3 linked regions of the Homo sapiens genome follow. The protein of the gene in region 1 purifies or fractionates together with the protein of each later gene. This does not show direct contact. Each region holds a gene or a part of one and is shown in the gene's direction. Other genes may lie near its edges.

What was found.
Region 2: the proteins of HOXB6 (region 1) and AHCYL2 purify together in Homo sapiens (affinity purification with mass spectrometry; 2 studies listed by BioGRID and IntAct, with this or other methods). This does not show direct contact.
Region 3: the proteins of HOXB6 (region 1) and PRRC2A purify together in Homo sapiens (affinity purification with mass spectrometry; one large-scale study listed by BioGRID and IntAct). This does not show direct contact.

What each region holds. Positions count from the first base shown.
Region 1 is NC_000017.11:48,598,619-48,602,137, reverse strand, and holds part of HOXB6 (homeobox protein Hox-B6), read left to right. Parts: exon of another isoform or gene 1-63; intron 64-474; exon of another isoform or gene 475-710; intron 711-1,592; exon of another isoform or gene 1,593-1,691; intron 1,692-3,519. UniProt on the Homo sapiens protein: Sequence-specific transcription factor which is part of a developmental regulatory system that provides cells with specific positional identities on the anterior-posterior axis.
Region 2 is NC_000007.14:129,406,439-129,410,089, forward strand, and holds part of AHCYL2 (adenosylhomocysteinase 3), read left to right. Parts: coding exon 1-28; intron 29-3,037; coding exon 3,038-3,108; intron 3,109-3,419; exon of another isoform or gene 3,420-3,651. UniProt on the Homo sapiens protein: May regulate the electrogenic sodium/bicarbonate cotransporter SLC4A4 activity and Mg(2+)-sensitivity. On the contrary of its homolog AHCYL1, does not regulate ITPR1 sensitivity to inositol 1,4,5-trisphosphate.
Region 3 is NC_000006.12:31,623,664-31,627,314, forward strand, and holds part of PRRC2A (protein PRRC2A), read left to right. Parts: intron 1-68; coding exon 69-246; intron 247-597; coding exon 598-697; intron 698-786; coding exon 787-859; intron 860-1,507; coding exon 1,508-1,651; intron 1,652-1,796; coding exon 1,797-1,948; intron 1,949-2,128; coding exon 2,129-2,208; intron 2,209-2,356; coding exon 2,357-2,499; intron 2,500-3,108; coding exon 3,109-3,199; intron 3,200-3,318; coding exon 3,319-3,535; intron 3,536-3,651. UniProt on the Homo sapiens protein: May play a role in the regulation of pre-mRNA splicing.

The sequences.
Region 1 (3,519 bases):
TTGATGTCTGCAAGTGAGTGCCGATCCCCTCCTCCATTCTCGATCTTTTCAAGCGAAGTCTACCTAAATATGATTTGGGAAAAATTTGGTAGTGGGACTGGGGCCAAATCCTTAAGGAACCACACCGTCGTAATTTCCGTTCCTGTTGGACCCTCCACACCGGCTTAACTCGACCTCCTTCCCAAGAGGGGGTGGCCAGGGCTAGGCTATGCGCCTCTGCTGCAGCGTTTGAATATTGGCCCCTGTCTCACGGGTTACTGATTAGCTTGGGCTTTCAAGCCGTAGGAGGAAGCTCTGGCAGTTCCTTTAAAGGTGCTGTGGTCCCCGTTCCTGGGTGGGGGTGGGGTTCCAGGAAATTGCCTGCGGTGCCAGGCAAACCAAGGTGTTGCCAGAGTCTGGCCGAGGGCTAGAGGAGCTGACGAGGTTAAGGGGCCTGGTGGTGCTGGGGACAAACACTGTGGCTGCAGCCCTCACCCTCTTTCGGCGCCTCTGGAGCAGCTCTTTATAGCTTTCCTGCGGCGAGGTGACTTTCTGGTGGCTATAAGGCCCGACTCAAGGAGCTGCTCTATAGGAGGCCCTGAGGGAGCCAGCCCTAGAAGGTCCTTGGCCCCTCTGAGATTTTGCTTTTGGGCAATCCAAAGGACATGTAGAGAAGTCAAGCTGGTACATGGTATTGAAACACTTCAGGGCCCTCAGGTTGTCCCCTGGACCTGCGGGTAGGAAACCGGGAGAGTGGGTTCAGCACTACTGCTCACTCCCCTAAAGATCAAAGAGGATGCCGCTCCTTTGCATAATGAAAATGAAGTCTTTGTACTTTGATTTGGAGGGGCCGATTTTAGGGCAAAGTGTCTCATCTAAACAGCCTCCCTCAACCTATGGGAGTGATCACTCAGTACCCCTGGGAACATTTATTTATGTTCCCCAAACCCAGAGAAACAGAGTCCAGGACGAGAATTGAGTTGAAATATTTTCATCCCACCCCACCCCAGCCAAAGTTGGGGGTGGTGGGAGAAGGTGCTCATCACCTCAAAGAGCTGAGGGAGAGGGCTTTATAGCTTAGAGGAAATTGGAAGCCTGGACAATGTCTCAGCACCCTCCCACACACACCACACCACACCACACACACACACACACACACACACACACGCAAATATCCCTCCTGAGGTTACCTATCAAGAATTTTACTCCCGAACTGAACACAACTTAGGAAACATTTTCCTGGGAGCTGGAATGTGTTAGCTTGCCCACAGGACTGCAGACTCACAGCATAGAAAATTACAATTATAAATCCTGCCTGTGGGGTATCTGTACAATCCCTCTGTTATGTACTCAAGAATTGGTACACACTTCTATCCATCTCTCTGAACACACACTTCCTCATTGAGGCAGGGAGAGACACCCCAGACTGGCGGATGGCTGAGCCCGCTGTGTATTTACATATTCCCCCAAGGAGACAGACAGAGGGCGGTGGACCGAACCACAGACAGATTCGTAGGGATCTGGCTCCAGAAAGGAGTCGGTCTCTGGCCTGCCCTGCCCGCCTGCTCTTTTTCCCAAACAAACGGATCAGACGAATAAACGCTCATAAATACCTCTGGGCTTAGATAAGAGCGATGAGGCGCTATTTTCTTTCATGCCCGACTCCAGGCGCCCAGGCCCGCCTGTAGTGGCTCCATCTCCAGACAAGCAACCTGCAGAGGTGAGGTTAATTTGGGGGCTGTGACTCTAAAGATAAGGCAATTATTTCCCTGCTTCTGACACAGGGAAATGCTCCCTTCCTCACCAGATCTTATTTTGTTCAGACTTCACTGAGAAAACCACACTATTTAGTGCTAGGATGGAGACATTGTGGGCAGGGAGGAGGCAGGGAAGGCTGAGGCCCAGGGCTCAGCCTCAGCAGTAGGCAGGGAGGTGCATGCAGGTACTCTCTCCCACTTTTCTCCCCCTGTTCAAATGGCCCCTAGTCCTCTCTAGAAGCAAGCCCAGCCATACCTAGATATGGAATATTTATCCTTCTTCATTATCAGGGGGTTTAAATTTGTTTTCTTAAATGCTTATCAAACACTCCCACAGAGTCAGGTTAGGAAGTAATTGGAGGCCATCTAGGGATGGCTATTTTGCCATTAAGGTACAGCCAAGAAGTTGCCCTGAGTTTAGAGAGCCTTGGAGACCACGTTGCAACCAAATAAGTTCCCACCCTTGGTGATCCAAGCTCAGTCCCCTGCCACCTTCCCTAGTGTCTTGTACCATCTTCAGTGGGCAGAACTTGGCCAGAAAAAGGAGCCCAAAGGAAGGACAAGGCAGAGGAGGGTCAGCCTGGCCTGACATCTGACTTTGTTCCATGCCCTGGCCCCTTCTTGTCCCCAGGTGTGAAGGTTGTCACCCTTCACTACTTGGCCTGTGTATGTATATTAGAATGTTGGGAATGCACTGTGGCCCTGTCTCCCAGCCTGGGCTCAATGCTTATTTTCCTTGGATGAAAGAGCCAGAGACATACATTCTCTGACACACCTAAATTTGTAAGGCGGCAAAGCTGATGATACAAACACGGGGTGTGGGAGGGAATTGTAGCGATGCTGAGATACAGACAGAAGGGAGAGGGGATGCTGGCTGATGGCTGGAAGCAGCCTGCTGAGTCCCCAAGAGAACGCAAACGACCTTCTCTCCCTATCAAACTAAAGCAAAAACCAAGTCTTGGGAAAGAATTAATTTTAAAAAGAACTGGCAGCTCCTACAGAGACTTAGAAGAGGAGTGAGGATGCATTTCTTCCCAGTGGTCTCTGACTGCCTCAACTATCAGGAGGGTTCAAAGCCCACAACTGGAAGAAGAATGATTTCTTCCTTGTGCCCAGATTTACTGGGACATCCCTGATTCCTGAAAATCCTATAGCCCAGGCTATTCTTAAGTCTTTTGGGATTGTAGAGGGTACTGGAGTGAGGGTTGCAGGCAGGATAGGGATCAGACAAATAAAGCCACCTAGGCTGAGGGATACCCCTCACTCCTTCACTCCATATCACCAAGTGAGGAGAGGGCTAGTCCCTTTCCCCAGTGCCCCTTCCCCTGCCAAGGGTGAGCAGCTGCATACTAGAACCAGGCAGAATGTTTTGGGCAGCCACCCTCGTCGCCGCCTTCCAAGAAGCTCCTAGTCTAGCCACAGAGTCAGAAGGGGAAGCTTGGGCTCAGTCCCTCCTGCCAGCTCCTCCTCTTCTGGGTCTTCTAGGCAGTGGGATCTGGCCTGCCCCCTCAGACCAGAAGGGTTGTGGAGAAGCAGGAACAATAAGCCGAGGCTTGGAGGAGACAGAGCAGATCTGATAAACAGGAAAAACGATGTTCAAAACCTGGGGAGGAGGGTGTTTCTTCTTTGCTTATCTTAGCGGAGAACTCTTCTCACCTTCTACCGACACAAAACCCTAGAAACAAACCTTCTTTAGTTCTCTCTCAAGGCGATTCGGAGACATTTACCCAACCCTCCCCGGAGAGAAGGGGTCGAAGCAACGCAGGGGTTAACTTTTCTGAAA
Region 2 (3,651 bases), on another chromosome or scaffold:
TTGACCCCATCTGTGCCCTGCAAGCCTGGTAAGCCTCTACGCTACCATCTCACTTGCAATCTCGGAGCTGTCTCCAAAGAATGGCCTGGTTGATGCCACACTTTATTTTAGAGGAGCCCAGATCCTCAGAGATGCTGCCACTAACTCTAAGCATCTGTCTTTTAAAAAGGTCAAGGAGCTCTGCTTGGAGAGAGCAGAGACTATCAGAAAAGCGAAAATTTAGAAATCCTGTGGAGATAGTAACAGGGATTCTGTCAGCCAGAGAACAGGTAGCCCCTTACCTTCTCCATGTATGATACTTGCCTTTCAAATAATGATCAGAAAAGAAATTGGCAGGCATCAGATGCCTTCTGATGTGTTACACTGAAAATAGCCCTTCTGTGGTATTCCTCCCAAAAATGTATAACCTGAATCTAATTGTGAGGAAACATTAGACCAATCCCAGTTAAGGGTAAAATCTACTAACTCTGAGTGAAGCATATATGAGAATTATTTACACTAGTATTATAATTCTTAAGTTTGAAATGATTCTAAAATTAAAAGTTAAAACTTTTCTTATCTATAAAATGTGTGTAATCATACCTACCTCATAGGATTGTGAGAGTTCAGTAAAATAATAATTAGCATAGGCTGGGTGTAATGGGTTCATGCCTGTAATCCCAGCACTTTGGGAGGCTGAGGCAGGAGGATTGCTTGCGCCCAGGAGTTCGAGACCAGCCTTGGCAACATAGGGAGACCCCATCTCTACAAATAATTTTTTTAAATTAGCTGGGTGTGGTGGTGCATGCCTGTGGTCCCAGCTACTTGGGAGGCTGAAGTATGAGTATCACCTAAGCCTGGGAGGTGGAGGCTGCAGTGAGTTGTGATTATGCCACTACGCTCCAGCCTGGGTGACCCAGCAAGACCATGTCTCAAAATAATTATTATTCTATATTATACATTATATAACAAATACATAATTATATAAGGTACAGAGCTGCTGCCACATAATATATGCTCATTAAATAATAGCTGTTATTAAAATTGTCTCTTGCCATCCTCAGCAGGGTGGGAAATACCACTGTTCTTAAAAACTATTGCAGAGTCCAAGTGTCTGTAGCCTAGGGGAACCATCATCCTTCTGGTACACTAAGAGTTTAGGAACCTGAACATATTTTAATACAAATTGATACTGTTCAGATACTGAACAGTTCAGATTATCCTGTTCAGATTATCCTGTAGACACGAATTGATCACTTACTATGCATTAGATACTGTGCTATGTGCTGAGAATGAATAAGATGAATATATAAATGAGATAAGGTCCTGCTTTTAGAAGCACACAGACAGATAACCACTGTGCAGCAAAGTAAGTGCTGTCATGGAGTTAAACGGCACATGCTTCTGTAGGAGCATAAAGGAGAAATTGCTTACTGAAGAGCAAGGGAGCAGGGTAGAAAGAGATGTCAGCAGAGCTGAGTCTTGACATTTGTATAGGTGTTTTCTTAGTTTGGAAGTATATTCCAGGTACTGGGAACATGTGTGTTGTCTCCAAGGAAGGAGATAGCATGGCAGATTTAAGAAGCTAGAAATATTTTAATGTAGTTGGCAGATGAAATACATTTGGGGGAGTGGTACTATCTAAGGTAGGAGTCATGGGAGTCATATGTCAATATAATCACATATCACTGTAAGTATTTGGGTCTTACTCTTATCCTGTCTTATCCTTAAGAACAGGCAGTCTCACTGAAGTATTTTAAGGAAAGGAAGCGACATGATCCAAATTGCATTTAGGAAAATCACTCTGCCAAATGATTTAGAAAGATGTAAACCTAGAGGCAATGAGATTGGGCCAGGGGTTACTATAGTAATCTAGGCAAGAAGTAATAAGACCTAAACTTAAGCAAGGCCAGTATGTATTAGAGAAGAGTAGAGAGATGAAAGAGACGTTTATGGAATTAAAGAAAAAGAGTCACCCAGATTTGGTGACAACTTCAATTCAGGAGAGGCAGCAAGGACATTCTTGTTTATATGGCTCATTCAGTTGGATGAACAGTGATGCTATTGATCAAGATAGAAAATATAGAAGAAGAAATAGATGAGATTATGGGTGCAGAGAAAATAATAAGTTTATTTTCAAACACAGTAAGTTTGAGATCCTTCTGGGACATTGATGAGGTGCTATCCAGTGGCTAATTTGATCCTTGGCTATGAAGCTTCAGAGAGATCTAAGCTAAAGTTACAAATGTAAAAATCAGCCATCTATCAGCAGTCATTTGCAGCCAAAGGAAGAGTATGGTTCTCTATACTGAAAGAATAGAGAAAAGAATAAAGGCATAACCCTGCAGAGCACCAATATCCAAAGGTTGGCTGAAGTTGAGGAGAGGCAATTAAGAGAAGTAAGAGGAAAACCAGGAGAGATGTATCATGGAGTCCAAGGGGTATAGAGTTTTAAGAAGGCAAATAATGTTTAATGTAGTAGAAGAAATCAAATAATATAAGAGTCTAAGAAGTTGGGCATGGTGGTGTATGCCAATAGTCCTGGCTACTCAGGAGGCTGAGGCAGGAGGATTGCTTGAGGCCAAGAGTTAGAGGCTGTAGTGCACTATGATTATGCCTGTGACTAGCTACTGCACTCCAGCCTGGGCAGCATAGTGAGATCCCATCTCTAAAAAAAAAAAAACACACACAGTTAAGAGTCTAAGAAATCTTGGGTTTGGCCTTCGGGGGATCACTGATGATCTTGGAGAGAGCAGTTTCAATGGGGTAGTTGGTTAAATGGCTAAGTGGCACTTTCTACAGTTTCTAGAAATTTGGTCAGGGAATCTCATGGTAGCCCCTGGCTCCCTATTATCAGGAAGAAATAAGTTCCGTGATGCAAACGAACCTTTTATTTCTGTCTTGTATGAACTAAGGAAATTGTTTGGATTTTTCACTTCTAAGAATAGTTCAGCTATCTCAAGAAATGACAGCAACTTGATATTAGCTTTTGAAGTCCTGTGTTAAAAGGCTCCCCAGCTGCCTGTTTAGGTTAATGGGTCATGCTTTATTTCAACAGTATGGATGGATTTCGACTGGTGAAATTAAATGAGGTCATCCGACAAGTGGACATTGTTATTACCTGTACAGGTATGATAATGACATTTTAAATGGGGTGGCACTTGGGAATGTTTTTATGGAGCAGGTGCAAGATGATTGGAAATATTCTGAAAAACCAAACTCTAAAAGCTAGAGAGAGATAGTAGCCCACAAAGCCAGCCAGTCTTTCACATTCTTCCTAATTCTTTAGAGCTCCGACCAAAGGTATACGATTAGGTTATTCCTATGTAAAAATGTTTCTCTTCACCCTTGAAGACAACTGTTATATCTCCATTCATCCTAGGAGATAGCTAGAGATGAGATTCACTTATAAAGTTTTATTTGGGAAGCCAGATATTTTTTTTTTCCAAAAATATATTTATTTTTAAAAACAGAAAATCAGATCAGTTTTATAGAGTCAAATTTTCAAGAGACAAACCAGAGTTTGGATTCCAGCTTAGAGTGCAAGTGAAGCATCAGTAATCTCATGCAGAAGATTTGTCTCTGCAGGAGGTACATTCTGCTTGACTGCAAGCACTCAATTCTCTAAATCTGGTTTGTACTTCTGCCATCATTTTATTCCATTCCAGCGCT
Region 3 (3,651 bases), on another chromosome or scaffold:
CCAGGATAGGAGGCCATCAGATCTCCCACATGAGGCATTTTCGACCCTCTCTCCGTCTTGTTCTCCAGTTGCCCCTCGCCATGGCCTGCAGAGTCTCGGGAAAGTTGCCATTGCCCGGCGTATGCCACCTCCAGCCAACCTTCCAAGCCTGAAAGCCGAGAACAAAGGCAATGACCCCAATGTCTCACTAGTGCCAAAAGACGGAACAGGATGGGCAAGCAAACAGGAGCAGTCCGACCCCAAGAGGTAGACAGAGGCTTGGGGGACCTAGAGTGATGGGTATTTTAACTTGAACTTCAGGGAGCATTGGGGCTTGGTTTAGTCCAGCCACGTCTGAGCCAGAGACGAAGAGGTCCCTTTCTTACCTATTGCAGGTTCCTTGTTAAATGACTAAGGAATGGTACTAAACTTTAGCTTTTTGTCTTGGAGAGAGAGCATGAAAAAATAGACAACAGCCTACAAAGGATGACAAAATTAATTTGTCCTTATATTTGTAAATGGTAGCAATGGGCATGATTTCAGTCCTGAGTCTCCACCAGTTGGAGAAGTCAGGGAGGCATCTCAGGTGTGAATAACCTTCCCATTCTGTCCCCTCAGTTCCGATGCCTCAACCGCTCAGCCGCCGGAATCGCAGCCACTGCCGGCTTCACAGACGCCTGCCTCCAACCAGCCGAAACGACCCCCAGCAGCCCCCGAGGTACCTGGAGAACTGGAGGGGTGGGGAGGAAGAATGGTTCATAGCTGCCCCACCCACATCATTTATCATCTTTCTGAACACTTCCCCAGAACACTCCTTTGGTTCCAAGCGGGGTAAAGTCCTGGGCACAAGCCAGCGTCACCCATGGAGCACATGGAGATGGTGAGTGCAGCACTTAATTGGGGAGCTGTGTCTGGGCACCATGGGATGCATGAACCCTGCACTGTATTTTCAGCCAAGTGACCTTGGTCCTCTTTGGCTAAATCAAGGACCACCCATATTCAGTTTCATGGAGGCACATGAGCAAGTTTAAGTCTCAGTCTTATATGATGGAGTGTAGTGGTGCCAGAACTGACCTCCTTGGGGAATAAGCAGTTATTCTGTAGGGGGGTGAGTTTGAAGGCGGGAAACCTGATGGTCTGGTACCTGTCAGAGCCTTCCACTTTTTTTTTTTTTGAGACGGAGTCTCATTCTGTCACCCAGGCTGGAGTGCAGTGGCGCAATCTCGGCTCACTGCAACCTCTGCCTCCTGGGTTCAAGCGATTTTCCTGCCTCAGCCTCCAGAGTAGCGGGACTACAGGCACACGCCAACACACCCAGCTAATTTTTTGTGTGTTTTTAGTAGAGATGGGGTTTCACATGTTGGCCAGGATGGTCTCGATCTCTTGACCTCGTGATCCGCCCGCCTCAGCCTCCCAGAGTGCTGGGATTACAGGCGTGAGCCACCGCGCCCAGCCAGAGTCTTCCACTTTTATAGCATGTCCTCAGGAAATGTCTTCTGTCTCCTGTTCTGCATCCCCATCCTAATAGGTGGAAGGGCATCAAGCCTACTGTCACGATTCTCTCGAGAGGAATTTCCGACCCTGCAGGCGGCTGGCGACCAGGACAAGGCTGCCAAGGAAAGGGAGTCTGCCGAACAGTCGTCTGGGCCCGGACCAAGCCTCCGCCCCCAAAGTGAGTGGCTGCCTTTTGGCCAAGACATTACCTATTGCATCTCAGAGCTAGGTGCTGGCTTATTCACCTTCCTCCCCATCACTTTCAGCTGTGTTCACTTGTCCTCCAATCATTGATACCTCTCTCTACCTTTTCCAAAATACAGATTCTACAACTTGGAGGGACGGAGGTGGGCGTGGCCCTGATGAGCTGGAGGGCCCGGACTCCAAACTTCATCATGGTCATGATCCCCGGGGTGGGCTACAGCCTTCAGGCCCACCCCAGTTCCCTCCCTACCGCGGAATGATGCCGCCTTTCGTGAGTCTTGGTGTCTTGTCTTGGAACGATTACACTGGAAGCTGGAGAGCTAGGAATCAGGACTTAGTCTTTGACCTATGAGATAGAAGGGAGGGTGGGAGGATGATTGATAGCAGGCTTAAGGAGCTAGAAGGGTATATGACTGTCCCTCTGAGCAGCTACTGTTGGACCCTTTTACAGATGTATCCCCCATATCTCCCGTTCCCTCCGCCCTATGGACCCCAGGGGCCTTACCGATACCCCACTCCTGATGGGCCCAGGTGAGCAATCCAGGTCTGGGTTTGTGGCTGGGGGCAGGGGAAGCTTATTGGGGGAGGAGATGGTTTTCTAGCCAGGAGGCTCAGTCTAGGATCAGTCTCGCATGTGGTTATACAACATGCCATATTTCATTTTCTTTTTTGTGTACAGCCGTTTTCCCCGTGTGGCGGGCCCCCGAGGCTCAGGGCCACCAATGCGCTTAGTAGAGCCTGTGGGTCGTCCCTCTATTCTCAAAGAGGATAATCTCAAAGAGTTTGATCAGTTGGATCAGGAGAATGATGATGGTTGGGCAGGTAAGTGGATATTAAGGGTCAAGAATTTGGATCTTGAAAGGCAAAACCTAATGAGGAAAAAAAAATACAGGGTTATGTGGGTGAAAGGCAGACATTGAAGTGTAGGAAGACCAGGCCCAATGGCTCACATCTGTAATCCCAGTGCTTTGGGAGTGTTAGGTGAGAGGATCGCTTGAAGCCAGGAGTTCAAGACCAGCCTGGGCAACACAGCAAGACCCCCCACCTCTACAAAAAAAAAAAAATTTTTTAGTTGGGTGTGGACTGTGCATCTGTGGTCCCAGCTACTCTGGAGGTTGTGGTGGGAGGATCAGTTGAGCCCAGGAGTTGGAGGTCACAGTGAGCTATGATCGTGCCACTGAACTCCATCCTGGGCAACAGAGCGAGACTTTTAAAAGGAAAAAAAAAAAAGAGTAGGGGAGGATGGATGGGGAATACCAAGTCCTTGCAAAGTGGTGAGAGGAGTAAGAATGACAAGACTTCATTGGTGGATCTAGACTTCGGAGGGAAGGATATTGGCATTGGTAGTCCATCTTGTTACATAGTTCCAGACTACCTCCCAAGATTGGAGGGCAGAATGCTTGGGTTACTAATACTCATATTTCCCCTCAGGGGCCCATGAAGAGGTTGACTACACTGAAAAGCTCAAGTTCAGCGATGAGGAAGATGGGCGAGACTCTGATGAGGAGGGTGCTGAGGGCCAGTGAGTTAGGGCCATCAGGGGAGAAGAGGAGGGGGTCTTGGTTTGTATTTTGGTAATATACTCTTAGAGGAGTATATTAGTTGCAGCTGATTTTAATTTCACTGTTGATCTGCTCACAGCAGGGATTCCCAATCAGCTTCTGGTGAGGAACGGCCCCCTGAAGCAGATGGCAAAAAGGGCAACTCCCCCAACAGCGAACCGCCCACTCCTAAGACGGCCTGGGCAGAAACCTCTCGGCCTCCAGAGACAGAGCCGGGACCTCCTGCCCCAAAGCCTCCCCTACCCCCACCTCACCGGGGCCCCGCCGGGAACTGGGGCCCCCCTGGGGACTACCCAGTGAGTGTCTCCAATAAGGGATTGAGAGGGTCAGCTGTGGGAAATTGGTGTCAGCTGAGTAATTGAAGCGGTTGTGATATAGAGGAAGGGGGGTGCTAAAAATGGGCTGTGTGAAG